Linked DNA regions of Homo sapiens. The protein of the gene in region 7 purifies or fractionates together with the protein of the main gene of each other region. This does not show direct contact. Each region holds a gene or a part of one and is shown on either strand. Other genes may lie near its edges. The genes, in order: PTER, KIAA1191, SMC1A, CTPS1, ZC3H6, GAB2 and SNX3.

What was found.
Region 1: the proteins of SNX3 (region 7) and PTER purify together in Homo sapiens (affinity purification with mass spectrometry; one large-scale study listed by BioGRID and IntAct). This does not show direct contact.
Region 2: the proteins of SNX3 (region 7) and KIAA1191 purify together in Homo sapiens (co-immunoprecipitation; one large-scale study listed by IntAct). This does not show direct contact.
Region 3: the proteins of SNX3 (region 7) and SMC1A purify together in Homo sapiens (affinity purification with mass spectrometry; one large-scale study listed by BioGRID and IntAct). This does not show direct contact.
Region 4: the proteins of SNX3 (region 7) and CTPS1 purify together in Homo sapiens (affinity purification with mass spectrometry; one large-scale study listed by BioGRID and IntAct). This does not show direct contact.
Region 5: the proteins of SNX3 (region 7) and ZC3H6 fractionate together in Homo sapiens (co-fractionation; one large-scale study listed by BioGRID). This does not show direct contact.
Region 6: the proteins of SNX3 (region 7) and GAB2 purify together in Homo sapiens (co-immunoprecipitation; one large-scale study listed by IntAct). This does not show direct contact.

The regions. Positions count from the first base shown.
Region 1 is NC_000010.11:16,481,510-16,485,687, reverse strand, and holds part of PTER (N-acetyltaurine hydrolase), read right to left. Parts: intron 2,551-4,178; exon of another isoform or gene 1,754-2,550; coding exon of another isoform or gene 1,739-1,753; intron 1,352-1,738; coding exon of another isoform or gene 1,304-1,351; coding exon 872-1,303; intron 1-871. UniProt on the Homo sapiens protein: N-acetyltaurine hydrolase that regulates feeding by catalyzing the hydrolysis of N-acetyltaurine into taurine and acetate. N-acetyltaurine has anorexigenic and anti-obesity effects that are dependent on GFRAL receptor and GDF15.
Region 2 is NC_000005.10:176,351,087-176,355,264, reverse strand, and holds part of KIAA1191 (putative monooxygenase p33MONOX), read left to right. Parts: exon of another isoform or gene 1-1,693; intron 1,694-1,836; exon of another isoform or gene 1,837-2,516; coding exon 2,517-2,643; intron 2,644-4,178. UniProt on the Homo sapiens protein: Potential NADPH-dependent oxidoreductase. May be involved in the regulation of neuronal survival, differentiation and axonal outgrowth.
Region 3 is NC_000023.11:53,409,155-53,412,776, forward strand, and holds part of SMC1A (structural maintenance of chromosomes protein 1A), read right to left. Parts: intron 3,100-3,622; coding exon 2,841-3,099; intron 2,748-2,840; coding exon 2,607-2,747; intron 350-2,606; coding exon 267-349; intron 116-266; coding exon 1-115. UniProt on the Homo sapiens protein: Involved in chromosome cohesion during cell cycle and in DNA repair. Central component of cohesin complex. The cohesin complex is required for the cohesion of sister chromatids after DNA replication.
Region 4 is NC_000001.11:40,992,868-40,997,045, reverse strand, and holds part of CTPS1 (CTP synthase 1), read right to left. Parts: intron 1,130-4,178; coding exon 978-1,129; intron 1-977. UniProt on the Homo sapiens protein: This enzyme is involved in the de novo synthesis of CTP, a precursor of DNA, RNA and phospholipids. Catalyzes the ATP-dependent amination of UTP to CTP with either L-glutamine or ammonia as a source of nitrogen.
Region 5 is NC_000002.12:112,278,119-112,282,296, forward strand, and holds part of ZC3H6 (zinc finger CCCH domain-containing protein 6), read left to right. Parts: intron 1-4,178.
Region 6 is NC_000011.10:78,411,111-78,415,288, reverse strand, and holds part of GAB2 (GRB2-associated-binding protein 2), read left to right. Parts: intron 1-4,178. UniProt on the Homo sapiens protein: Adapter protein which acts downstream of several membrane receptors including cytokine, antigen, hormone, cell matrix and growth factor receptors to regulate multiple signaling pathways.
Region 7 is NC_000006.12:108,226,250-108,230,427, reverse strand, and holds part of SNX3 (sorting nexin-3), read left to right. Parts: intron 1-4,178. UniProt on the Homo sapiens protein: Phosphoinositide-binding protein required for multivesicular body formation. Specifically binds phosphatidylinositol 3-phosphate (PtdIns(P3)).

The DNA.
Region 1 (4,178 bases), on a different chromosome or scaffold from region 7:
GGTTGGAAGAATATATAATCCTCATCATCAGCATAGTCTTTAAACAACAAAAATACATTAAAAAAATAAAGTCCTGGTTGGAAAATAATGCAGAAAAAATTTTGAAATACAAAATACTCCAGAGAGTAAGTGATCTTTTGCAAAGAATGAGCTGACACCCTATGCCTGTCATGCAGGCAATGGAAGATACATACGAATATATACATATATGTGTAAACATGTATAAATAGATACATGTGTGTTTAGAAAGAGAACACATACACGTGCAAAAAAGGTTTTGCACCTTATTCTTTTTGTCCCTAAACAATTTACTTCCTTCTGCCCATTCTTAAGACCATATTATGACAAAACACAGGGGAATGAATTTTCTTCCACCTCTCCTGTTTTGTGAAAGGAAACTGAAACATATTCACAAATGTGCCAAGTCTTTGACTGCCAAGTTTCACCCTACAGTGAATCTTCATTGCTGGTTATTATAAAATCCAGGGTGAAAAAAAATCGAGGTAGCATAACTTAAGATGGAAAAGTGAGGTTTACAAATAGACTGTGGTGCCAATACTGAGGACAGATACGATACACACAAATCTAACTATTATCACGTTGGATTTTGCAATGACCAGTGCACTAAGATCTCTTTCCTTGACACTTATTATTATTATTTTCTTTTTTCTTTACCACAAGGCTTGCTTGCAAAATTGGCACTTTCTTTATGAAATACAGTGTTACTAACTGGGGCCCCAACTGGCAGATGTCTTTGCTAGCTAGCAAATTTCCGTAGCATGCCCAGCTACCTCTGAACCCAGGGCATTTCCAAGGTTCTGGCTGTTCTGAATTTATGAACAAATACTGTCAAAGAACTTAGGCTTTTTACCTGCTCCACTGACATGGCCCTGGTCTCTGAGGAGTGAGTTGCATCCACATAAAACCCGGCTCCAGATATGATATGGACGCCAGTCTCTTCTGCAAGCCTCTTCAACGTCTGTGTGTCTCGGCTAATCCCAGTGGTTGTGTTTTCCACCAAAGCCCCTCCACCATTAGCTTTAAAATACAACAGTTCTTCCTTTATGGCTTCTGTCTCCTGATTTAATTGAAGGTTTTCTTTATGGGAATAGGCGTTTTTCTGAATCCAATATAAATTTTTCATCACGATAGGTTCTTTGGAAATAGCTTCCTGGCACGGGGGAGGTGGACAGTAACAGCAGTCAAAGGTCATGGCCAGGTGTTCATGGGTCAGGGTACGGCCCAGTTTGCTTGGCTCTACAAGGCCCAAAACGGTTTGGACTTTTCCACTTAAGGAAGACATTTCTGATGGTACCACCAAGAGATGTTCTAAAAAGAGGATTTCTTTTTTCTAAAAACAAACAAACAAACAAACAACTACAATCAGAATATTTAACACACACATAAACTCTTGTCCGTAAGGGGTGGGAGGCTGTGAACATATACCCATGTAAGAAGGCAAATCAATAAAACTAGAGATACGATCTCACAATCCTGCCGACTTCAGAATCTATCCCCACTGCAGATCTAAGTGACGTGCGTGGTGTTAATTGCCTCCCACCCCTTCTACTGGGAGTCCTCTGCCTGAGTTAGTCCTAACCTTATCTACTGGAAATATTCTTTGATATTCAGTTCACTTTTCTTTAACTTAATTGTATCTCTTAATCATAGCTATGCATTCTTGGATAAATCAACAGTAATTGTAATTAAAAAAAAGTATTCAGAATCAATAACTTACATCCAAACTAACCATGTATCAGTACTGTTTCATTTGTCACTTTTTAGCTAAATTAAATATCCTGAAGCAACTGATCTTTCCTCCTTTTTTTTCTTTTTGAGGGAGAGTCTTGCTCTGTTGCCCAGGTTAGAGTGCAGTGGTACGATCTCAGCTCACTGCAACTTCCGCCTCCGCCTCCTGGGTTCAAGGGATTTTCCTGCCCCAGCCTCCTGAGTAGCTGGGACTACACGCATGTGTCACCAAGCCTGGCTAATTTTTGCATTTTTAGGAGATGGGGTTTCCCTATGTTGGCCAGGCTGGTCTTGAACTCCTGACCTCAGGTGATCTGCCTGCCTCGGCCTCCCAAAGTGCCTGGATTACAGGTGTGAACCATCACTCGTGGCCACAACTGATCTTTCTACTGTTCCTCCACTACCCAAGCAAACAAATTTCTGTTGAAGGTCCATGATGTGTCAGAAATTAGAGCCATAAAGAAACAAAAGACAAGATCTCTGACTCACACGACTTCATAGAATATGCCCCTCCCCAAAACAACTGAGGAGCACACTCGGTTGAATAATGAAATAACAACAAGAAACGAACCTCTTCAGGTTGAATGCTTGATTGTCTAGGGCACACAGAAACACACTTCAAAAATACTGAAAAGCAAAGATTCTTAGCCATAATGAAAGCGATTGTGATTTATTGAAACTGAAATCGGCTATCTCTAAAAAGAGCAAAGCCCTCTCTATCCTCGATTTGCTTTCATTTGTAGCACAAATTAAGTGTTCACCAATGTCTATCAGTGATACCAAGAACTCCAATTCCAGTACTTTCCTTTAAAAGTACATTTCCTTTTAAAAAATTTGTTTAAATTAAAAATTAAATGGCCAGGTGCAGTGGCTCATGCCTATAATCCCAGCACTTTTGGGAGGCTGAGGTGGGAAGATCACATAAGGCCAGGAGTTTGAGACCAGCCTGGCCAACATGGTGAAAACCCGTCTCTACTAAAAATACAAAAATTTGCCAAGTGTGGTGGAGCGTGCCTGTAATCCTAGCTACTTGGGAGGCTGAGGCAGAAGAATTGCTTGAACCCAGGAGGCGGAGGTTGCAGTGAGCCGAGATCGCGCCACTGCACTCCAGCCTGGGAAACAGAGCGAGATTATGTCTCAAAAAAAAAAATTTTAAGTACATTTCCTAAATGAAGGGTTTATAAAGGAACAAGAGCTACTGAAAATAGTGAGGACAAACTCCTGCATGGCCAAGAGCAAAATCAGGACTCGAGTCCCAGACTCTGGGAACTGAAGAAAAGGAGCATCACGTGTTTCCAAGCTCTCAAACTGTTCCTTCAAATAGTGTTCTGAAGTCATCATTTCCCCCATATCCCTTGAAAGCCTTCTTTGACTTCCATTTTTGTCATCTGTAAATTAAAATAACGAAGCACATTTCATAGACTGTCGTAAAAATAAATTAGATACCACAGGTAAAAATACCTGTAGATGCATTTGGCACGCAGACCATATTCAACAAATAGTAGCTTTGTTTTGCGAATTCTAGGAACTATTCACGTATATCCTAGATTATTTCTTTTCAGAGAAAGTGGCTGATGAGAGGGGAGATGATTTGGGGGAACAAAGGGGAAAATTTGTGAAGGGTATAGTACACACGTAAGACAAGGTGAAAACAACATCAGAGGTCAGAGGGTGACAGAATTGTAGGCCAATTTATAGCAAGCCACTGCAATTATCTGGAACTCAGGTGTTTGCGATATATTGGCTTATAAGGCATAAATGATGGATTTAGACTTTTGGACAGAACTTAGGACTTGTGGCTAACATGGCCATTGATTTTGTTTGATAGTGCCTTTCTGGAAGCCAAACTTCTATCAGCTAGGCAATTCAAATGGTGGCTAAGAGAAAAGCAGGCAGTGTCTCTTCAGAGAATCACCACACAGCTGCCAGGCACTATACAGGGCAATATTTTCCAATGATGATGGATAGGAATTTACTGTTCAGTGTCTTATTCCTTGCTACTGAGAGCAAGGAGTGTGTAGTTCATGCCTTCCGTTGATGAAATCACAGTACCATTAATAATAGATGCAAGCTTCCATATGGGTTAATTTGCCGTTTCTTTCCTTCTGGCTGACCATCTTACAGACGTGTTCCAGAGAGTCACAGAGGGGCAGAAACTGAGCTAAATTGATAAAATGCTACCACTTTTGCTAGAAAAGTACCAAACTGCATATTCAATTGATGCATATTTGAAAGAGCAATGTTGGTACGTTTCAAGCTCACAAGCTGTGAGTCTTTCTGAAAAAAAAATCACTTAAGAAATGTCATCCCTTCTGGGAGATTCCTCTAATGCTCTCAGGCAGAACTGGCTGGCACTTCCTATGATCACACACAATGTAACCTCCACTCAAAGGATAAGAAACGATTAAAGAACAAACTGTAGCCAACAT
Region 2 (4,178 bases), on a different chromosome or scaffold from region 7:
TTTTTAAATCTCCCTCCTTTTTTTTTTCTTTTTAATTCAAAACTAGAATGGCCTTGTCTGCTCCTGAGACTCTTCATATTCCCCACAGAGCTAAATCCAAGCTCAGCATGATCCACAGTCCATGTGATCTAAGTCCTGCCTGCATCTCTCCAGCTCCCCTACCCAGTGCTTGAACTGTGCAAGTTACCTAAAATTCTTGCACTTAGCAGCGTATTTTCTGCCTGTCAGTTTTTGGCTCACACTGCCCTGATTGTTTAGGATGTTTGCCATCCACATCCTGTCCTCTCACCTTTTCTCCCACTCCATTTGCCTGAAAACTGGTATCCTTTAAGTCTTAGCTCAAAAGTCTCTTCTGTGACAGTTTTCCTGACATCTCCGTCCTCCTGATAAGGCCATCACCTCTCCCTCTGAGCTCCCCACGGTACCATGGTCCCCGTCGTCATCCCTGCATTGCTTTCTCGCCCTCCATTAGCTTCCTGAGGACAGGGGCCATGTCTAGGTTTGTACTCTTATCTGCAGGATCCAGCCGATGGCCTGGCATAGATTCCCAAAAACTGCTCATTTTGTGATTGGGGAAAAAAATTGGCCCTTTCTTGAACACATGCTGTACCTGTCCTCATGCTGTACCTCCAGCCTCAGCTGCCTTTGCCCATGGCCATCCTCTGTAAGAACTGCCTCCTTCCTAAGGCCCTTCCGAACATACCTCACAGTCCTTCGTGCAGTCTAGTTTCGTAGGTTCGCATTATTGGAGCCTCTGCTTCCCGACCTCAGGGACTCTCTCCCCTCTGACTCTCCAGCCACCAAGAATACAAGAAAGGCTAGACTGTTGCCTGAATAAAGTAGGCCCGCCAAGTTCACGTAAGGCTGTTTAACCTGTAGCTACAGTTTCTCTGAACTTTGAGCCACATGGTAGCTCAGGGCCTGACAGGCAGTACACAGTAAGGGTCCACTGAAATAGGCCTGGGTGTGAGTCCCAGGTGGTCTGCCCTAGCAAGACCTTGGGCACACAACTTTACCCTGAGCCCCAGTGTCTCTCTCTGAGAGTTGGGAATACCTTATGTCATAGAGGTGTTGTGGGGATTCAGTCAGGGGATGTAAAGGGTTGGCACATTGTGTATTAGCTGTGTAGCTGATATTATGACTGCAGGCTCCCTGCTTAACTTTCTCTTAGTAGAGCCATATTTGATAATTTCTAAGGAGTGTTTTTCCCCCCGCCTCCAACAGACTTTCAGGGCAGACAGCTCCTTTCTAAGAAAGTGCCCCTACAGCTCTGGGGGATATTCCCTCTATCAATTATCTACTGAAATATGACCCAGTCAGTTGTTCAGGGAGAGTATTCCATGTAACAAGTAGCAAAAGTGCAGGGAGAAAAGGCCTGCTGCAGCTTGCCTGTGATGTCAGAGCAATGGGCTTTAGGGTCCAGAGCAGGAGGTGAGCAGGGCTTCTGGTGGTGCTTGCCAGGCCACACACCCTGCTGATGGCTCCACAAGGCAAGGGATGAGCGGGCTTCCAGATTTCTTCTGGGCCTCAGCTGGAACAGCTGATGGCTTGGAACAGCTGCTCCAAAGGAGAGCTCCGCTTGACTCATTGCATGCGATCCTATTCATTTGCCCTAACTCTCCCCATGTTAGGAATCAACCGTCTTCCCAGTAAGGAAACAGGCTCAAGTTTTACTCAAGGTCACAGCTTAAAGGTATAAATTCTGTTTTGTAGTAAGGATACAACATTTTTCATTACTTTTTATCTGTCCCCCCTTTTCAACCATCTTACTTTCTTCTCAGTTCTTCCAGACAAGCACAGAATAAAGAATAAGTCTTGTTCTCTCCTCCCTGCTAGGCCTGAGCAAGGTATCAGGTGTTTCGATTGCAGAAGGTGGAGGCTGCCAGCTCTTGCAGGTTGAAAATGAGGAGCTAAGTAGATTTTTTTTGTTTGTTTCAAAAGACCATTACTTGAACCTTGGGAGCAGTGGTCCTCAAGGTGTGGTCTTGGGACCGGCAGCATCAGTAACACCTGGGAATTTATTAGAAAGAAATTCTTGAACTCCACCCCAGACTAACAGGGACCTACTGAATCAAACTCTGAGGTGGAGCCCGGCAGTCTGTTCTAATGGCTGGCACAGGGTCAGAACCACTTAGCCAGTGCTCTCATCAATTAAGATCTAGCATAGTGCCTGGGATGTGGTCAGTGCTTCGTAATAAGCATTTCTTCTGCATTCTTAGGGCATAGTACTATAGTATATCGGAAGATCATAGTCTGGGAAGGTAGTAGACGTCAGAGCTTCAAATTCTGGCTTTCCCACCTTTATAAATGTAAACTATTCACCTAATGTCTTTCTTTGTTGTCTCTATGGATAATACCTATCTAGCTGGGTGGAGATGACCAACTCCTCCCTTCAATGATTTCCTCACTTACCAGATTAATGTTATTTCAGTAACTTCCTCCCCAAAGGAGTAAGTTTAGGTGTGTGACTCCCCTGCCCTGCCTAAGTGCTTCTGTACTGTACCTCTCTTGAACAGGTGGAGGAAGGAGAGGCCAGTCTACCCTCCCCTGCCATGACCCTGTCATCAGCCATTGACAGTGTGGACAAGGTCCCAGTGGTGAAGGCTAAAGCTACCCATGTCATCATGAATTCTCTGATCACAAGTAAGCACTCTTCACCCTCAGAGTAGAGTGCCATAGGGGCAGGGAAGAGTTGAGGCTTCCTACAAGCTGATTGGAGATGATACTGCAACACGCTCGCCTTACCTTATCCTAAAAAATGTCAGTTTGGCTGCTGAATCATGTCAGTATTGAAGCTCCATTTATTAAGTGGAAGATTTGCCAAATGTTAAGCATCTTATCTGATTTAGGTGCATTCCTGCTGCTTTGTTGATATGATCTCATGTTCCCAGCTCTGTCACTGTGGCCTTGGGCAAGCTACTTAACTACAGAGACTGCCCCGCTCTAAAATGGGGAATTTCACTGGCAGGTTGAGGTGAGGATCAGAAGGCCCAGTGCTCAGTGGCGGCAGCTGCTGCTGTTACTGTTTCAAGCTCTGCTGGAGAAGGGGAAACATCCGGGCATTTCCCACTTACCCCAGTTTTTGTTTTTTTTTTTGTTTTTTTTTTTTTAAACAGCTCAAAGTTGGTCTACCAGGAAGAGGACCAGGTCCAAGTGTCTTTAGTCTTAAGAATGTATGATTGGTCATCCTAATGAAACCTGATATGAGAACTTGGATTTTTTTTTAACCTTATAACAAGCTAACTAAACTTCTTCATTCTGGAGGGCTGTACAGGTTGCTGTGGGAAGTTAACAATTAGATACATGGCTCTGTTTGTCAGCAGTTGTGCCCCTACCAGGGTAAGGTACATAGAGGTTCTCCTTGGTTGGCTCATTTTTGAAGTCAGAAGCCCTTGTTTATCTTCTCCAGGAGGGCATCAGTTTGTCCTGGGCAATTCCTAGTGAATTCACCAAGAACCAAAGGTCCAGACTCTTACTTTGGTTTCTCTTCTTTTTTTTTTTTGTTTTGAGACAGAGTCTCACTCTGTCACCCAGGCTGGAGTGCAATGCTGTGGTCTCAGCTCACCACAACCTTCGCCTCCCAGGTTCAAGCAATTCTCCCACCTCAGCCTCTGGAGTAGCTGGGACTACAGGCGCCCACCACCACGCCTGGCTAATTTCTGTATTTTTAGTAGAGATGGGGTTTCACTCTGTTGGGCAGGATGGTCTCAAACTCCTGACCTCGTGATCTGCCCGCCTAGGCCAACCAAAGTGCTGGGATTACAGGTGTGAGCCATCACGCACCACCTATACTTTGATTTTCTTATTCACATCTGTTGAATCAGCAACACTACTTTTATTTTACAAGCTTGAGAATGTGTTCTAGCAGTGTTACAAAACTTATTCATTGTTCTTTTAGCACAATGTAACTTTTTTTTTTTTTTTGAGATGGAGTCTTGCTCTGTCGCCCAGGCTGGAGTGCAGTGGCACGATCTCGACTCACTGCAAGCTCCGCCTCCCGGGTTCACGCCATTCTCCTGCCTCAGACTCCCGAGTAGCTGGGACTACAGGCGCCTGCCACCACACCCAGCTAATTTTTGTATTTTTAGTAGAGATGGGGTTTCACCTTGTTAGCCAGGATGGTCTGGATGTCCTGACCTCTTGATCCGCCCGCCTTGACCTCCCAAAGTGCTGGGATT
Region 3 (3,622 bases), on a different chromosome or scaffold from region 7:
TAGCTGCTCCATCACCTGGTTCAGCTCCTTATTGATTTCATCAATACGCCGCTTGGCCATCTCCACCTCCTCTGTCAGCTCCCCCTCTAGCTTCTTCTGCTCTTCTAGGGACTGCCTACAAAGTGAGGGCACACAGGAGTTACTCCTGCTGGTGAGAAAATACTCCTGGCTCAGAGAGCTCTGGGGGTCCTGCATGAAGAGGGGCATGTAGGTAGGGTCACAAGAACAGGCCTGGAAGTAAGGGGGACAGATGCAGAGCTACATACTTGCTAGTGGTGATGTATTCCTCCAGTTTCTCAATCCGCTTCTGATTCTCTTCAATTTCCCGCAGCTTTTGCTTGATCTTGGCCTGGGAAACAAACATTCCATCATCAGGGGCTGCACGAGTTTACGCCAAGACCATGGGGGCTCTAGATCACACCCTTTATGTGCCCACTCATCCAAGAGCCGAACAGTCCAGGACAATCTGTCACTAATATAGGAGGCCTACTAAAAAGCAGACATAGATGGTGTTCGGTTTGATCTACTAACTAATGATGGGGGCCTCCCAGAGCTCCAGAACCTCTCATAGGTGTTCTACCCAGCCAAGGCATCTTCTTCACCAACCATGGAGGCTCAAATCAAGATAAAGCTTCACAGGCCTTTCTGTACCTGTTTCCTCATCTGCAAAATGTGGGTAATCTCCACTGCATAGAATACACATTAAGTGCTTAATATAGGGTTGTTATTAATATTAATGACTATCACATTATTTTTAAAAAATTTTTATTATTTTTTAAAATTTGAGACAGGGTCTCACTGTGTTGCTCAGGCTGATCTCAAACTCCTGGCCTCAAGTGATCCACCACGCCTGGCCAACATTCTTTTAAATATTTAAAAGTGCTTAGCAGAATGCCTGAACACTGTACACTCCTGGGACACTATGACAACTTTCTATCATTGCTGTTATTACAATATTGATATCAGGGAGGCAGTAAGTAAAGTATATTTGGTAAGAGTGTGGGCTTTAGAGCTACAATGCCCAGGGTCTGGTTCTGATACTTAATAGTTATGTGAGTGGCCGGGCACGGTGGCTCGCGCCTGTAATCCCAACACTTTGGGAGGCCAAGGCAGGCTGATCGCAGAGGCAGGCAGGAGTTTAAGACCAGCCTGGGCAACAAGCAGAAACCCTGACTCTATAAAAATTAAAAAATTAGGAGGCCGAGGCGGGCGGATCACTTGAGTTCGGAAGTTCAAGACCAGCCTGGTCAACATGGTGAAATCCCATCTCTACTAAAACTACAAAAAATTTAGCCAGGTGTGGTGGCACCCACCTGTCATCCCACCTACACGGGTGGCTGAGACACAAGAATCACTGGAACCGGGCTGGGTGCGTTGGCTCACACCTGTAATCCCAGCACTTTAGGAGGCCAAGGCGGGTGGATCACCTGAGGTCAGGAGTTCGAGACCAGCCTGACCAACAAGGTGAAACCCCGTCTCCACTAAAAATACAAAAATTAGCCGGGAATGGTGGCTGGTGCCTGTAATCTCAGCTACTTGGGGAGGCTGAGGCAGGAGAATTGCTTGAACTTGGGAGACAGAGGTTGTAGTGAGCCGAGATGGCACCATTGCACTCCAGCCTGGGCAACAAGAGAGAAACTGCGTCTCAAAAAACAATAAAAATAAAAATAAAAAAATAAAAAGAATCACTTGAACCCGACAGGCAGAGGTTGCAGTGAGCTGAGATCATGCCACTGCACTCCAGCCTGGGCAACAGAGTGAGGCTTTGTCTCAAAAAAAAAAAAAAAAAAAGTAGCCAGGCATGGTGGCAAGCACAAGTAATGCTGGATACTCAGGAGGCTCTGGTTGGAAGATTGCTTAAGCCTGGGAAGTCGAAGCTGCAGTGAGCCATGGTCGCACCACTGCACCTCAGCCTGCATGACAGAGAAAGACTCTGTCTCAAAAATAACAATAATCTTGTGACCTTAGGCAAATTACTCTGTGTTGTAATTTCCTCATTCATAAAATAGGGTAATAGTAGCCATTCCATAAAGATAATAATAAATGAAGAATTAAATGAGTGGATACATGTAAAGAACATTGCCTATCATACAGTAAGTGCTCAACAGATGTGAGCTACTGTCATTATCATTGTCATTATCATTAAGATTATCATGGCCAGGCGCAGTGGCTCAAGCCTGTAATCCCAGCACTTTGGGAGGCCGAAGTGGGTGGATCACAAGGTCAGGAGCTCGAGACCAGCCTGGCCAACGTAGTGAAACCCTGTCTCTACTAAAAATACAAAAATTAGTTGGACATGGTGGCGCACGCCTGTAGTCCCAGCTACTCAGGAGGCTGAGGCAGGAGAATTGCTTGAACCCGGGAGGCAAAGGTTGTGGTGAGCTGAGATCACATCACTGCACTCCAGCCTGGGCAAGAGCGAAACTCTGTCTCAAAAAAACAAAAAAACAAAAAAAAAGACTATCATTACAGGTTGGGTAACTCTAATCCAAAATGCTTAGGACCGGAAACGTTTCAGATTTTGGATTATTTTGGATTTGGGATGCTCAACCTATATATATCCTTTTCTGTGGACCATCATCCCTAATCTTATAACTATAGCCCACCTCTGTCTCTACTTTCTTCCGTTCTTCCAGATCCAGACGGTCCTGGTCAGCTTTCTGGTCTCGATTGAATTTCTCCAGCTCCTGGGCCAGGGTAGCTGCTCTCTTGCTGGCTTCTTCTTTCAACCGGTGGTATTTCTTCACCTGTGTTAGGGACAGGGAAGGAGAACAGGGATGACCAAGTCAGCAGATGTCAGCCCAGGGATCTCCTCCCTGCCAACCCCTTCCAGAGCTTACCTGATTCTCCTCCAACGTCAAATCTCTGCCCTGACTCTGACTCTCTTCTTCCATCCGTTCTTCAAACTCCTGCCGAGCCTTCTCCACTGACAGCATCTCCTTCTCCAGCTCATCCATGTCACCTTTACGCTTCTTGTAGTGCTTCTGAGCATTCTGCAGAGACTTCTTGGCTGCTTCCAGCTTCTTGATTTTGTGGGAGGTGTTCTCCTTGGCTTTGATGTACTGAGGCCGCTTCTGGTTCAATTCTGAGTCCTTCTCCCTTTTGCCAGAGGGGTGGGGGAAACCAGTGAGAACTATGGAAGAAGGGAGGGTTCCCAGGCTTTTCACCCAAAGGAGAGCTTGAGCCCCTGAGCCAACCTCAGGGAATTACTTAAAAGAACATGGGCGTAATGCCCCACAGATCCTGAAAAAAAGGGGCAGTCTGACTACTCCCTGAAAGGTATGACTTCAGCCTGGCATTCCAGCCACTCCATAAGGCAAAGCTACCAACTCTGCCTCAACCCTGGCCAGGAAGCTCATTAACAACTCCCAAGAACATCCTGTATTTACTTAGTTGGCCCCTCAAATTCCTATCCTTTAAACTTCTAGCTTCAGTTTCCTCTTCTAGGAAGGCCTTCTCAGCCACTCCATTGGCTCGGCCTCACATTGGTTCCTCTTTCTTGGCAAGGCCACCACCCCTTTTGAGTTCTCCCTCATCTGAGCACCTGTCTACCCAGGGCCTGAGTGCTTAAATATTCTATTTGTCTAAACTGCAAGTCAAGAAATGTGCCTGGTTCTTACAA
Region 4 (4,178 bases), on a different chromosome or scaffold from region 7:
AGATCAACATGGCAGGCTTTGTAAAGAAAAATTTTTTTTTTGTTTTTGTTTTGAAACTTACAAAGAGTTTCAACGTCTCACACAAATTTGCCTACAAAAAATTTTTTTCATACCAAAGACCAAAAAAAATAACAGACATAGACAATTCACAAGAATTAATGGGGTGAAGGCAAGTGTCAAACAAATTATGGGACATTCACAAAATAGAAAAGTCCACACTCATTAAAAGTTTTCATTGTAAAATATAATAACAGAGCAAAATGCTTATAATGTTTTATGAAAAAGGATGATAAAACTGCCATTCTGATAGCTATATGTAAGCAGACAAAGACTGAAAGGAAAATGTTGAAATGAAAAATGATTCTCACAGAGCAACGGAATGAGTATGCCCTCTCCAAATGCTTCTAGGCCATCATATTGATCTTGCAACTAAGATAAGGCCTGCCCATTGCTCTAAGACACGAAGTGAAGATTTCTGAAGGAATGTGACAGCATCACCGAGCCTTAAAAGGATGTAGTGGAGTAGGCAGCAACACATCCCCGTCCTAATGTGATCCCTTTCTGGTGTGGGGTGAGACACATTCCCAAACACAGCTCAGAACTCTGGAGTGGTACCCAGGAGTGCTCCAGCCACTGTCAGCCATTCGTGTGGGCTTTGGATATGCACACTCACCCGCTGCCACCAGGACGCCCATCTGCACTGATCTAGTTGGTAAGAGACAAGCGTGTTAAGACATAACCCGAACTCATTGTCTGGAGGCCCGGCACCTGGCCTGGCCCTATCAGGATCTCCTCATCTGTGCCACAGCTACGTGACAGCTAAGATCCTTTCTGAACATCTCTTACTACAAAGGCTCTTCTAATGAGTGGATGGCAGAAGTGCAAAAGTACAAAAGTGCTAGGGCTAGAGTCGGCTTCACCAGCCCTACAAAAGAGTAAAGGAGGCTAGCACTCCCAGCTCCTCATTGCAGGCAAACCTGTCAGCCATCTCTTTCCATTTCATCAGCATTTTTCTTGGCTGCCTCTCAATAGGAAGGTCAAGTCTTCGAAGAAAATAATCTACAACCCCTTGCTCCTCTAACAACAAGGGGACTCGGTAGATGGATGAGACATCGTGGACACAGATCACCTGTTTAGAAAAAAGCAAGTTATTAAATAAAAGCAAAAACTCACCAGGCTTACAGCCTCCTACTAGCTACGTGACCTTGTAAAAATATTATGTATTTGAAAACAGAAAAAAGGACAATTTTCTAGATAAACTACTAAAACAGACTCAAGAATAGAATAGAAAATTAGTGGCCAATCTATTATGAACATGGATGCAAAAGTCCTTTAAAAAAAATTCATGGCTGGGCAAGGTGGCTTATGCTTATAATCCTAGTACTTTGGGAGGCCATGGCAGGAGGATTGCTCGAGCTCAGGAGTTCAAGACCAGACTGGGCAATATGGTAAAACACTGTCTCTACAAAAAAATACAAAATTTAGCCAGGCATGGTGGGCATGTGCATGTAGTCTCAGCTAACTGGGGGGTAGCTGAGGTGGGAGAATCACTTGAGCCTGGGAGCTTGAAGCTGTAGTGAGCTGAGATTGTGCCACTGCACTCCAGTCTGGGTGACAGAGTGAGACTCTGTCTCAAAAAAAAAAAAAAACACCCAAAAAATTAGCTGGGTGTGGTGGCATGTGCCCATGGTCCCAGCTACTCGGGAGGCTGAGGTGGGAGGATCACTTGAGCCTGGGAGTTGGAGGTTGCAGTGAGCCAAGATCGCATCACTGTACTCCAGCCTGGGCAACAGAGCCAGAACCTGTCTTAAAAATAATAATAATAATAATTCATGATCCAAATCACAAATGTAGCTTTAAAAAAATCATGTCCACGAACCTATGAATGGCTTAACTAGGAACAGTGGTTCTCAAACTCAGCTGCATATTGGAATCATTCAGAGCTTATAAAAGGTCAAAAGCCCATGCTGCACCCCAGACCACTTGAATTAGGATCTTGTGGGGTAGGAGGCAGGCATCAGTATTTTTAAAGCTCCCCAAGTGATTCCAGTGTGCAGTCAAGTTTGAGAACTACTGTGTTAGGAAATTTAACAGTGGAATTCACCACATAAATAGAAAACAGATTAAGGAGGAAAACAATTCCCTCAGTAGATGTAGACTTGATAAAAATTCAAAACCAAATTCATAATAAAAATTATTGGTAAATTAAGATTAGGGAAAATTTGGCAATATAAAAAACCCACAGTAAACATCACATGGTTTAATATTAATGTTTACTATTTAAAGTCCAGAACAAGGCCAGAATGGCCACTTTCAGTACTTCTATTCAATGATGTACTGAAGATATTAGCCATTATCATTAGATAAGAAAAAAAAATGAACCAGAAAACAAGAAGCGGTTGCCACTGAATAATGCATACAATATCACTGCTTATCCATAAAAACCAAAAGAATTTACAGGTAAACAATCAGTACTAATAGAATTTTAGTAAGGTTGCTAGGCTGTAGATGAATGGACAGAGGTCAGCAGGGTCTCCTACACATGGGGTATTATCTAATCAGAAAATATAATTTTTAAAAATACACGGTAGTAATAAAAATTATGAATAGCTATAAATAAGTCTAAACAACTTTATGAAGATTAGTAAATCTATAATGTACCTTTATTTTTAAAAAGTACAGAATAGTATCCAAGGATAGTCTTTTCAACAAATGGGGCTGAGGCAAGTAGATATCCACATGTAAAAATTTCAACCCTTACCTCACACTACACACAAAAGTTAACCTAGAATGGATCATGTAAGACCTAAAACTAACTTTTACAAGAAAATCTTCATGACCTTGGTTAAGAGCAAGGAGTTCTTAGACACGACAGTGAAAGCACAATCCATAAAAGAAAAAAACAGATTGGACTTCATCGAAATTTAAAAGTGTCTGTGCTCTAAAAGACACTATTAAGAAAATGAAGGCCAGGTGCGGTGGCTCACACCTGTAATCCCAGCACTTTGGGAGGCCGAGGCAGGCAGATCACCTGAGGTCAGGAGTTCGCAACCAGCCTGGCCAACTTGGCAAAACCCCGTCTCTACTAAAAATACAAAAATTAGCCAGGTGTGGTGGTGCATGCCTGTAGCCCCAGCTACTCAGGAGGCTGAGGCAGGAGAATCGCTTGAACACGGGAGACAGAGATGGCAGTGAGCCAAGATCATGCCACTGCACTACAGTCTGAGCAACAGATCAAGACTCCATCTCAAAAAAAAAAAAAAAAAAAAAAGAGAGAAGAAAATGAAAAGACAAGGCACAGATAGGGAGAAAATATGTGAAAATCACATACCTGATGAAAGACTTGTATTCAGACTATATCAAGTCAACTCAGTAAGATAAACATTCCAATTAAAAGAGTAAGTAAGGCTGGGCATTGCCGGCTCACGCCTGTAATCTCAACATTTTGGAAGACTGAAGCAAGAAGACTGCCTGAGCCCAAAGAGTTCAAGACCAGCCTGGGCAACCATAGCAAGACCTCATCTCTACAAAAAATAAAACAGCTGAACATGGTAGCGTCCGCCTAAGGTACTAGCTACTCAGGAGGCTGAGGCAGGAGGGCTGTTTAAGCCCAGGCTGCAGTGAGCTGTGACAGCACCACTGCACTCTAGTCAGGGTGACACAGCAAGACCTTGTCTCTTAAAAAAAAAAGGCAAGGCCAGGCGTGGTAGCTCACACCTGTAATCCTAGCACTTTGGGAGGCCAAGACGGGTGGCTCACCTGAGGTCAGGAGTTCCAGACCAACTTGGCCCGCATGGCAAAACACCATTTCTACTAAAAATACAAAAATTAGCTCGGCATCGTGGCAGGTGCCTATAATCCCAGCTATTCGGGAGGCTGAGGCAGGAGAATCACTTGAACCCAGCAGGTGGAGGTTCCACTGAGCTGAGATTGCTCCACTTCACTCCAGCCTGGATGAAAAAGTGAAAACTCCATCTCAAAAAAAAAGCAAAAAATCTGAAACTTAAACTTAAATGTGGAAATACTTGTTACATTTTTAATAGTGAATATTTTTAAGGCCGGGCGCCCTCACACCTGTAATCCCAGCACTTTGGGAGGCTGAGGCAGGTGGATCACCTGAGGTCAGGACTTTGAGACCAGCCTGGCCAACATAATGAAACCCCATCTCTACTAAAAAT
Region 5 (4,178 bases), on a different chromosome or scaffold from region 7:
TAGGGTATTTTTCATAGGCTCCCTGGGAAATTCTTAAGAAATTTGGGGAAAAAATGGACTAATCTGCGGGCTTCCAAAATACTGTATCTTTCCATATAATAGCTATTTTATGCTGTTATAAAAGTTTCTGTGAATTAAGTGGAGAAAAATATATGAAACTTGGTATATGGAGCTAGGCTTTGTCTCAAGGATTTTATTTTATTTATTTTATTTTTTTGAGACGGAGTCTCGCTCTGTCGCCCAGGCTGGAGTGCAGTGGCACTGTCTCAGCTCACTGCAAGCTCCACTTCCCGCCTTCACACCATTCTCCTGCCTCAGCCTCCTGAGTAGCTGGGATTACAGGCACCCGCCACCACACCTGGCTAATTTTTTGTATTTTTAGTAGAGACCACGTTTCATCATGTTGGACAGGCTGGTCTTGAACTCCTGACCTCAAGTGATCCACCAGCCTTGGCCTCCCAAAGTTTTGGGATTACAGGGGTGAGCCACTGTGCCCAGCCAAGGATATTCTTTTTATAACATTTTCAAAAATTAAGGCATATTGTGTATGCAGGAAAAAAAATGAAGCCTATGATTTATATTTACAATTGCTTTGATTTTATACAAATTAAAATATTACTGTTTATGAGAATGAGATTCTAAATGTAAATGGAATTCACAGAATGCATAATTTTTTTCTCGTTTAAAGAAATAGAGTCTCGCTATATGCCTAGGCTGGTCTTGAACTCCTGGGCTCCAGCCATCCTCCCATTTCAGCCTCCCAGAGTGTTGGGATTACAGGCGTGAGCCACCACGCCTGGCCTTGTACATGTTATATAGTGAACATTTTGCACAAGATTGTTTGCCAAATGAATAATTTAAAAAAAATCCATTTAGTGTACTTTCCTTTAAATATTTTCACACCTGGAGTTAAAACATTGTATTTTATAAGATGTTATTAATATAAAAATACTTCTAATTCTACTTGTGGCTATGTAGAATGTAGTAGAGGACTTTTGCATAAGCCCAGAGCCTAGTTTCTAAAGGTCTTTAGGGATTTAGGGAAATCAGAGGGAGGTATAATTCTGGTCTCTCGTCGTTCAGTTCTTTTTCATTCAGTTCTCTCAGGCACGACTCCAGCCGCTCAGTTTTATATTTCAACTGGATGTTGACCCAATTAAAACAATTCACAACTCCTGAAGACGAAATACTATGAGTCCCTGCTTTGGACACATCTGTAGTAGAGTAGGAAAAGATAAATATAACCCAAGTAATTGTTACAGAATTTTCTGAAATATACTAATGGTAAAAGGTTTTGTAGGGCTTGTACTGGGGAAAAAGATAATTTTTTAGCATGAACCTTTTAAGAGCTTGTGAGTCTCAAAGAGTCTTTAACTGATAGGTGATATGGATAATACTCCCCTTTGGGAGGAGGTTTATAATACATAAACAACCTCCCCACCCTTCCCTCGCAGCTTTCTGTCCTGTACTACAAGAACAACAAAACTCCAACTAGTCAGAATTGCAAGTGGTTTATGGCCCCCCATATAGATTGAAAACTTGCTAAGAGACTGCACTGGAGAACCTGAAAGGATGAGGATGGAAAAGATGATTATACTTTTCATTTGCAACAGGGCTTTCATTTGATTCTCACATTAATCCCATGTGGTAGTTAATTAAGGTAGCATTACAAGGTTCAGTGAATTGTCTGAGATCTCATAAATACAACCTAGATAAGAACCCAGGTATTATTATTTTCAGTCTTGCAATATTATTTTCCTACTTGCAATATTATCTTCACTCTTCATTAAGTTTGCACAGCAAAGTAATGGAATAAGTTCTGGGCTTTAATCCTTGAGTAGTTTGGAATTGTAATGTGCTACATTTGAGAGAGAGCCCTTCATTTTGAATAAAACCTTGGTACTGATCCTGATCTTCTAACTTGGGTTAATGCTCTTCCCCTTTTCATTATTTTTTTCATTTGTGAAATGAAGTAGTTGCACTAGATCATTTTCAATTTTCCTTCCCACTTAAATCAATTTTAATTAAAAAAATTGCAGATGCCTTTTCTCAGATTAGAGTACACTTTTTGCTCCACACAATATCTGGTTTGTAAATTAGTATGTTCCGTGGAGTAAATAACTTTCCTGACTAGCCATTAACTTACTTCTGATTCCTGAATCCACTAATTTAACTATTGTTGAAATTACTAAAGGAAATTTTTCTTTAGCAAATGTAAAACCTCGTATCAGGTCTCAGGTTTGATGTTGTAAAGCACTCTGACTCTCAGGAAGACTCTTTTTTTCCCCCAACCTCTCATAAACAAATATTTCATTCATTATAAAATTTCATTCATTACATTTTCATTCCTCAGACTTAACAGTGTTTCGTCTCTGCTAAGTATAGTGTTAAGCACTGACAAAAGAACTCTGGACACAACATCATGAACTTGCTCTCTGGGATCTTATAATCTAGTTGCAGAAACAGATTGGTAAATACATAGTATAGCACAAGTACTATAATGGAGGCCTGAACTGAGTGCTGTGGGGGTACACAGATGAAGGCTTCTGGGAGACATCATGGCATAACTAGACCTGGAGGATGAATAAAACTTTGGCCAAGTAAATACAGAGATACACGAAAAGCATGGATAAATGGCACAAGTAGGTTCAGGGATGATAAAAGTGTTAGTATGTGGAGAGTGTACAACTATTTTGGGGAATGGGGAAACGGATTAAATTTGGGGCCAGACCCTGAAGGATGTGGGGATCCCATCAAAGTCTTTTAAGCAGGAGAATGATCAGATGCATTTTTTGGTATACTACCTGGGGGATAGGAGGAAATGGACTACAGAAGGGGAGATCAGTAGAAGGAAGACAAGTTAGGAAGCTTTTCAGTCATTTTCATTAAACATGAAGCTTAATATGTATTGTTCTAGGATCAGGAATACAGCAATAAAGAAAAAACTTGGTGTAATGAAACATATTTTCTTGGGAGAGACAGAAAATAAACATGAAAAACAGATGTGTTCAATGGTGATAAAGCAGAAAGGGAGATGGGGAGTCAAGTGGATGTGGGGAGGGTGTTTAGGGAAGCACTTATGAAAGAGTAACATTTGAGCAAAGAGCCCTGATACAAGACAACAATTCAGACCCAAGACATTTGAGGAAAGAGCATCCATATAAAGGGAGTGGGAGGTAGAGAAAGCCTGGACCAGGAATGAGCCTGGTATGATTGAGGAAAACACAAGGGATTTCACTCTTGAGTGACCTGGGAGCTAATGGGGGATTAAACAGAGGAGGGACAGGATCCTCTATGGTATATGGTAAGTGAGTAGTATGGTAAATGAGGTAAATGAATAGTAAAAGGAACTGCTGTGGTAATTTAGGTAACAGATGATGATGGTTTAGGTGAAAATGGTTGGATTGTGGATATGGTTTGATTGGTTTTAGAACCAATAGGATTTACTGGTGGCTGGATGTGGACAATGAGAGAATAGAATGAACCAAAGCTATTGTAAACGTCTAGAAATCAGATGAGGACTTGACCAAAGGCATTGGCAATGAGAAAGTAGGCACAATTCATGAGGTATTTCTTAGCATTGATAGAGTTGGATATAAATATCTGGAATTTTTAGCTGATTGAAATGTTAGTTGAAATGAATGATACCACTCAAGGTATGTGTGTCAAGAGGTATGGAGAAGAGCACAGAAGTTTTTGGAAACCAAGGGAGGAGAAAAGAAGGGATAGTCACAGAGCAGTAAAGAAAAATAAAGGTTAAAAATAGGTCACAGGATGTACATTATCCTAAGTTAAAATATTTTAAGGTTTGAATGAAAGGGTGCTGCAGGGTTTGCAAACTGGTGGGCTTCAGGCCTAAAATCTGCCTATACTGTTGTTTTTGCCTGACAGAATATCTTAAAATATCTGTATTTGAAAGCATTTAAGGCTTGACTTGTGCTCTACACTCCACAGTCTTATCATTCATAGTTTCTTGGCAAACTCACCACTCAAGGTGTGCCTCACTTATTTAGGAGATCTGCCTCACTAGGGTAGACATTTTAGGTTTATGACTCTTAAGTTTTCACCTGGACAGATTGGCTACCAAAAAGAACCTCACAGGTGGGTGACCTTGAATTCACCAGGTCATGCCATCAGTTCAGAGCGGCCGGAGAACTCTGTTCTCTTGTGCATTGATG
Region 6 (4,178 bases), on a different chromosome or scaffold from region 7:
TAGATTGAGAAATCCTCATTATAAGAATACATCGAGCATATGTGATAAGGGGAAAAAGTAGTTGAACTAGGTTATAACTATTTAAAACGATTTTTTAAAAAACTGACTTAATTTGAAGTCTGGGCGCAGTGGCTTATGCCTGTAATCCCAGCACTTTGGGAGGCTGAGGCGGGTGGATCACTGGAGGTCAGAAGTTCGAGACCAGCCTGGCCAATGTGGTGAAACCCCGTCTCTACCATAAATATAAAAATTAGCTGGGCGTCATGGAGGGCATCTGTAGTCCCAGCTACTCAGGAGGCTGAGACATGAGAATCGCGTGAGCCCGGGAGGCTGAGGTTGCAGTGAGCCGAGATCGTACCACTGCACTCCAGCCTGGGTGACAAAACGAGACTCCATTTCAAAGAAAAACAAAAAAACTTACTTAATTCGGAAAGACGGGAAGGTGTAGAGGGGAAAAACATCTTAGAAGAAGCAAAGGCAAATGTTTGAGCAATTAGTTTTCAGGGATTTTTTTCATCAGCCTTTTCTAGTTAATTAAGTATAAGTATAAGAGACCTATCTGCTATTTACTGAGTGCCCTGGAGAAATTGCAAAAAGTGTCTCTGGAAAATGCTGACTATTGCCTCTGGGGCATCCTGATATGGCTGCAGTGGGAGGCCGGCAGAAGTAACAACCCTCCCATCGTGCCTCAGTGTATTTGTGTGTGTATGCGCGTGCATGCAAATGCATACACACGTACATGTATATAATTATTAAACAGAATTTTCTTGAGGAAAAACATTTTATTAATATGACCTACACTGCATTGTAGTTTTCTATCAATTTCACTGGATTAAAAGATTGAGGGAATAAGATTGGCAGACTACCCCCTAGTGGCTAACTTGAAGAAAGTTGTGCACAAATTGTAAAGAACTACTGCATTAAGGTAACAGTAATTGTTTATTTCCATTATATTTATTAAATATACTTATTAAATCTATGTCCCAGGCACTGGATCAGGTGCTTGGAATAAAAATCCAGTAAACAGAAAAAAAAATTAATCCAGTCTTTCAGTCTTAGCAATGGCTTTGCCTTCTCCTTCAAAGGAAAATTGAAATGATGAGGGAGTAGTTGTCTGTACGTACGATGAATGGCCACATTTTCAAATTTACTTGTATCTGCATAGTTCCTTTCTTTCTTCCTTTTTTTTTTTTTTTTTTTTGAGACAGAGTTTCACTTTTGTTGCCTAGGCTGGAGTGCAATGCACGATCTGGGCTCACTGCAACCTTTGCCTCCTGGGTTCAAGCGATTCTCCTGCCTCAGCCTCCCAAGTAGCTGGGATTACAGGCATGCATCACCACACCTGGCTAATTTTGTATTTTTAGTAGAGATGAGGCTTGACCACGTTGGTGAGGCTGGTCTTGAACTCCTGACCTCAGGTGATCCACCCGCCTCGGCCTCCCACAGTGCTGGGATTACAGACAGACATGAGCCACCGCGCCCAGCCTGCATGGTTCCTTTCTTGTTTCCTTTTCTTAGAGTAGATGAAGTGCCACTTCTATCTGAGCTAATCCTGCTACTTATACTTTGAATCATATCTTCTCCTCCCTACTCAAATAATTCTTATCCTGTAACACATCTTCAACTTCTTTCCCTCTCTGTACTACCTACTTTTTTTCAGGGATAAACTTGGTGGTGGTTTATGCAGTCTTCCTTTCTCCCACCTTCTTCTCAGTCGGCTCCAGTGGAAACCTACTTTGTTATTCACCAAAGCTATTCTGACAAAGGCACCAGCGATACCCAGGTCACTAAACTCAGAGGATGATTTTTTACTCCTCATTTTAATTAATCTCTTCACTGCTTGGTCATAGTTGACCACTCTTTTTTAAAACACCTTCCTCTTATCTTGGCTGACACTATAAATGCCTGTTATTTCTCCTTTTCTGGCTACTCTATATTTCCTTTGCTAGACTGACCCTTTTATCCAGTCCTTAAAGGTTGAAGCTCCTTTATAGTCATAGTGGCTGTGTGGTTTCTCCCCTTTGGCAACCTTGTCCATTCTACTGGCTTCAGTTATCATTTGCATGGTGGTCATCAAGTTAAATTTCCATCTCAGAGTTGTGTTCTGAACTTCAGACTTACATATCCAACTGTTAACTGGGCATCTCTATTTGAATGTTTCCCAGTCAACACAAACTCACCACTTCCAAAACTAAACTCTTCTTTGTTCATCTCTTCACTCCACATCTGCTCAGTAAACAGTGCCACTAAGCACCTACTTGCTCAGATGAGAAACTTGGGCATCATCTTTGACTCCCCGTCACCCACTATCCCACATCTAATCTGTCACCAAAACCCATTAGTGGTATCATCTAAATATCTTGTTATACGCTTCTTCATCCCCACTGCCATGACTTTTAGGATTATTTTAGTAGCCATCTGTTGAGCACTTACTTTGTACCAGGCACTATGCTTAGACCATTGATCTTTTAATGTAGTAATTTAGCCCTATAATAAGGGAAGCAACTTACCCAAAGTCATCTAGCTTTGTCCTAAAGCCTGGGCTTTTTAAAAAAATTAAACATTTCATTTTGAGGTAATTCTACATGCACATCTAGTTGTAAGAAATAGTAAACAAAGATTTATGTAGCCATTATCCAGTTTTCCTTAATGGTAACATCTTGCAAAATTATAGTACAGTATCACAACAGTATATTGACAATGATACAGTCAAGATACAGAGCATTTCCATCATGATAGGATTTTTTATGTTGCCCTTTTATAATCGTATTCACTACCATCCCACCCCTACCACATCCTTAATCTGTGACAACTACTAATCTGTTCTCTGATATTTCATGTGTGTTATTTAAATGGATTCATGCAGTACTTAAGATTTTGAACTTTTTTTTATTCAGCATAATTCTCTGGAGATTCATCCTCATTTCATGCATCAATAGTTATTGTTTTTTATTGCTAAGTAGTATTTCATGGTATGGATGTACCACACAGTCTGTTTATTTAACCATTCACCCGTTAGTTCTCATTTACATTTCCCTTATGGCTAATGATGTTGAACATCTTTTCATATGATTATTTGCCATCTGTATATCCTCTTTGGTCAAATGTCTTCAAGAATTTGAGTATTTTATATATAGGTTTTTTTTTTTTGAGATGGAGTTTTGCTCTTGTTACCCAGGCTGGAGTGCAATGGCATGATCTCGGCTCCCCAGGTTCAAGTGATTCTCTTTGTTGTTGTTGTTGTTGTTGTTGTTGTTTTTAGACAGATTCTCACTCTGTCACCCAGGCTGGAGTGCGGTGGCACAGTCTTGGCTCACTGCAACCTCTGCCTCCCAGGTTCAAGCGATTCTCCTGCCTCAGCCTCCTGAGTAGCTGGGACTACAGGTGTGCGCCACCATGCCCAGCTCATTTTTGTATTTTTAGTAGAGACAGGGTTTCACCATGTTGGCCAGGATGGTCTCAATCTCTTGACCTCGTGATCCGCCCACCTTGGCCTCCCAAAGTGCTGGGATTACAGGCGTGAGCCACTGCGCCGGCTTTCCTGGTTTTTTTTTTTCTACACATTTTACAGGTTTATGTTTTTCCTTTAAGTCCGTGATCCACTGTGAGTTAATTTTCATGTAAGATGTGAGACTTAGATTGAGGTTCTTTTGTTGTTGTCATTGTTGTTGACAAAGCCATCCTACTTCCATTGAATTGCTTTTCCGTCTTTGTCAAAAATCAGTTGGACGTATTTGTGTGGGTCTGTTTCTGTTGTCTCTGTTTTGGTCCATTTTTCCATGTGTCTGTCCCTCTGCAAATACCATAGAATCTTGCCAACTCTAGCTATATTGTAAGTCTTGAAATCTGGTAGCCTGATTCCTCTACTTTATTCTTATTTTTCAAAGTGTTTTAGCTATTCTATTATCTTTACCTTTCAATACAAATTTTAGAATAATCTTGTTTATGCAAAAAAAAGAAAGTCTTGCTGAGATTTTAATAGGAAGTGCATTAATCCTGTGTACCAATTTGGGAAGAAATTACAGCTTTACTATATTAAATCTTCCAGTCCATGAATTTATTTTACATTTATTTATATATGTCTTTCTTCCTTCGTTTATTTTCTTCTCCTTCCACCATCCCCCCCCCCAACCACCCCCACCAGAATCTTGCTGTGTCACACAGGCTGGCGACAGTGG
Region 7 (4,178 bases):
TTTCTTGTATTTCCTACAAATATTATTTCATACAGATGGTTGTATTTAACACTTTTACCTGTTAAGAAATAAAATGAACAGTAGCTAGGAAGAAAATTGTGGCTTCCACTTTATACTCAGCCTGATACTAAGCAACTTCTCTTAAAATTAGGGGGAAAATATGAATATTAGAGTGAGAGAATACTAAATCTTGCTGTTTAAATTTCAAAAGTTTTAGTCATCTTAAAGTAAGTTAACAATATTTAAGCCTGATTTACATTTAATTTCAGAATTCAGCATTCTTTCTGGGTAAATCTAGAGCATTTAAAGTGGCATCCAAGATAAAACCTTTAAGGGATTTTTGCTGTAATTTGCCTCAGTAGTCTGACTCTTGTCCATACATTTCAAAGCAGATAAACCTAGGAATCAACTAGAGCCATCTGTTCTTAATTCTACACCTTAATGCTACATGCAGCTCATCTGTGGCTTCTACTTCTGTAGTAACTTCTCTGTTCTATTTTTTCTGTTCATAGCTATCATTTTTCTATTCAAACATATTTATTAACTCCTGATGCTCACAGGTAGTCACCTTAGCCCCATATTTAGAGTGCAATTTAAACTTTTCAGTTTTATTTCCCATCATTCCCTATGCTTTAGAATATTCAAGAATTATATACTAAATATACACTGTACTTGTTTCTTCTCTGCATTTAGCTCACACTATTTTCACCATTTTCAGCTGTCTTATAGTATGGCTAGCTCTGTGTTAAAAGAGTCCTGGCTGAGGCCATTGCACTCGCGCCATTTTACCCTAGCATGGGCGACAAGAGCGAAACTCTGTCTCAAAAACAAACAAAACGAAAAAGAGTCCTGACTGGCCGTACGCAGTGGCTCACACCTCATATTCCAGCACTTTGGGAGGCTGAGGTGGAAGGATCCCTTGAGCCCAGGAGTTCAAGACCAGCCTGAGCAACTTAGGGAGACCCTGTCTCTAAAGGAAGGAAGGGGAGGGAGGGAGGGGGAGAGGGAGGGGAAGCAGAGAGACTGAGGAAAGGAAAGAAAAGGAGGGGAAAGAATGAATGAATCCGGGCCAAATCAATTGTCAATTCTTCCGTGCTTTTCATATTATACAAATGGTATTATGCTATATAATATACTGTTCTGAAACTTTTTTTTTTTTTTTTTTTTTGAGGTGGAGTCTCGCTCTGTCGCCCAGGCTGGAGTGCAGTGGCATGATCTCACCTCACTGCAACCTCCGCCTCCCGGGTTCAAGCGATTATCCTGCCATAGCCTCCGGAGTAGCAGGAATTACAGGCTCGTGCCACCTCACCCGGCTAATGTTTGTATTTTTAGTAGAGATGGGGTTTCACTGTATTGGCCAGGCTGGTCTTGAACTCCTGACCTCAAGTGATCCACCCGCCTCAGCCTCCCAAAGTGCTGGGATTATAGGCATAAGCCACCGCACCCAGCCTGAAACTTTTTACATGTCATACATTCTAGACAGCTTTTCTGATTAACCTATGGCTGAGTTATATTTTGTAAAAAGCTGTGTAATATAAGCTTGTAATGTAAGATTTATTGTTTCTGGTCTTTTTTGGGGTTTTTTTTTGTGTCTATTACAATGCTAAAATATTTTTGTATGTGTGGAAATATTTGTAGGATTAATTCCCATTGAAATTGTTCATTCAAAAGTTATGTGTATTTAATAGAGTAATGGATAATGTATTCACCAAAATGCCCCCCTTTTTTTTGAGACCGTCTCCCTCTGTCACCCAGGCTGAAATACAGTGAGTGATGTGATCACAGCTCATGCAGCCTCAGCCTCGAAGGCTGAAGCCATCCTGACACCTTATCTTCCCACTACAGGCATGTGCCACCATACCCAGCTAATTTTTTTTTTTTTAAACAGAGTTTCGCTCTTGTTGCCCAGGCTGGAGTGCAGTGGCGCAATCTTGGTTCACTGCAGTCTCCGCTTCCCGGGTTCAAGCAGTTCTGCCTCAGCATCCCGAGTAGCTGGGATTACAGGTACCCGCCACCATGCCTGGCTAATTTTTGTGTTTTTAGTAGAGACAGGGTTTCACCATGTTGTCCAGGCTGGTCGCGAACTCCTGACCTCAGATGATCCACCCGCCTTGGCCTCCCAAAGTGCTGGGATTACAGGCATGAGCCACCACGCCCAGCCTGCCCAGCTAATTTTTTATTTTTTGTAGAGATGGGGGTCTCACCATGTTGCCCAGCCTGGTCTCAAACTCCTGTGATCCTCCCACCTCAGCCTTCCAAAGTACAGGGATTACAGGCTTGAGCCATCATGCCCAGCCAGTTTGTAGTATTTTTAACCATGGAAATTCAACTTTTTATATGCTTATTTTCTAACCTTGATTGGTGTATGTTTCATAAGGGCCAGGTCTGCATCTTATTCATCATTATAAATAATGATTCTCCCTTATCTAGCATGGTGCCCTTTTATAGATGATCAGTAAATAATAGTTTAGTCCTCCTGAAGCTGTAGGTAAAAAACCTCTCCGCCCTTCAATCATTTTATGAAAGTTAAATAAATTGAAAGTGACCAATCACAGGAGTTTCAGCAGTGATAGTTCAGTACCTTAAACAACAACAACAACAAAAAAAAAAAACCCACATTTTGCACTTAGTTATTTTAATCAGTTACATTGAATTACAAATCCTTGTAATGATGAGGAAGACGTTTAACAGGCTAAGTTAACCACTGCATATGTAATGGGCAAGTGATGTTTGAATTTCTTGATGTGACTTTAAACTCTAAAGCAGTCCTCATGCAAAAAGAGAAATCATAACCAGTTAAGAAAACTAAAGGAACTTTCTTAAGCTAATCATGGTCCTCTAAATTTAAGTATATAAACTATCAAACTATTAGCTAATCATAGAAGGGAAAGTACTTTTCCCCCTCACCCCTCCCCTTTCTGTTAGAGTGAATCAGATATAATCATGATTGTGTCAAAAGTTCAAAAGGGAAAATGGAAGGTAAAATGAGCTGAATTGGCACTCTTCTCTCAACATTGTACCTGTAAGCTTGATATGTTGTTTCAGAGATTAACTTTATAGACTTCCGTACCCAGAAGTATGAAAATTCTTAGGGGACTCTTTTCGCAAGCTTGATCTTAACGTATTTGAATAAAGAGAGCAGTTAATCCCCTTTGTAAAGTAATTTGAGAGGAGGGAATTCAGAATGTAAAATCTCACCTGCAGAAAACACTCAACTCTGTAAAGGCCTTTTTATCTTTAAGGCATTTACAAAGACTTAATATTTTAATGCGGAAGGGTGAACTTGGTTAAAAAGCCAATAGGTGAAATTAGAGAGAAATAATCCAGTGCTTTCTTTCTGGGAATTATTCTACTCTCCAGGGGACCTAATTTTATTCCCTGTGGGGAATGAGAATACCCTCTGTACAACAAGCCAGCATCTTTAAATATAAGCTTGACTTTTAGTATAATAAGAGTCTTGTTAGGTGCAATTTTTTCCTTAGTCATTTATACAATGAACAAATGTTGTGGTTACCTGGGAAAGAAAATTCAAGTGCTTTTAAATCTCTTGTGAGATTTGGTTTCATGCTTGAAACCTATACACTGTTATGCCCAATAGCATCTGTTGAAAATTCTGAGCTGTAAGGTATACAACATAGAGAAGTTAATACACTTAGGAAAAAATTGAGACCACTACAAAATGGATTTAAGGGCCTGAATTAAAAGCTTTTCTTGTGCTGAGTGACAGCTACTTACCAGTAGCATTAAGCTTAACAAATAAGTAGAACTTTCTTAGGAGTGAATATTACAAGATGATGTCCCTGTATACACAGTAGGAAGCCAGTCTTTCCTTCAGGTGGCACTTAACTTTTTTCTTCCAATTGTAAAACACTTTTTAGTTCTATGCAAATTCTGTGCTAATTAGTTCAAAGTCTGAATTAACGGACAGAATATAATCTAAGAGAATATATAGTGTTGAGTAGTATTTTTGGTAGGGTATGGCATTAGTTATTATGTTAAGTCATTTCTGTCTCCTACAAACTTTGTGATAATTTGCACATTTTAAAATCTTTTTGGCTGGGCACGGTGGCTCATGCCTGTAATCCCAGCACTTTGGGAGTCCAATACAGATGGATTGCGTGTACTCAGGAGTTCAAGACCAGCCTGAGCAACATGGTGAAACCCTGTCTCACCAAAAG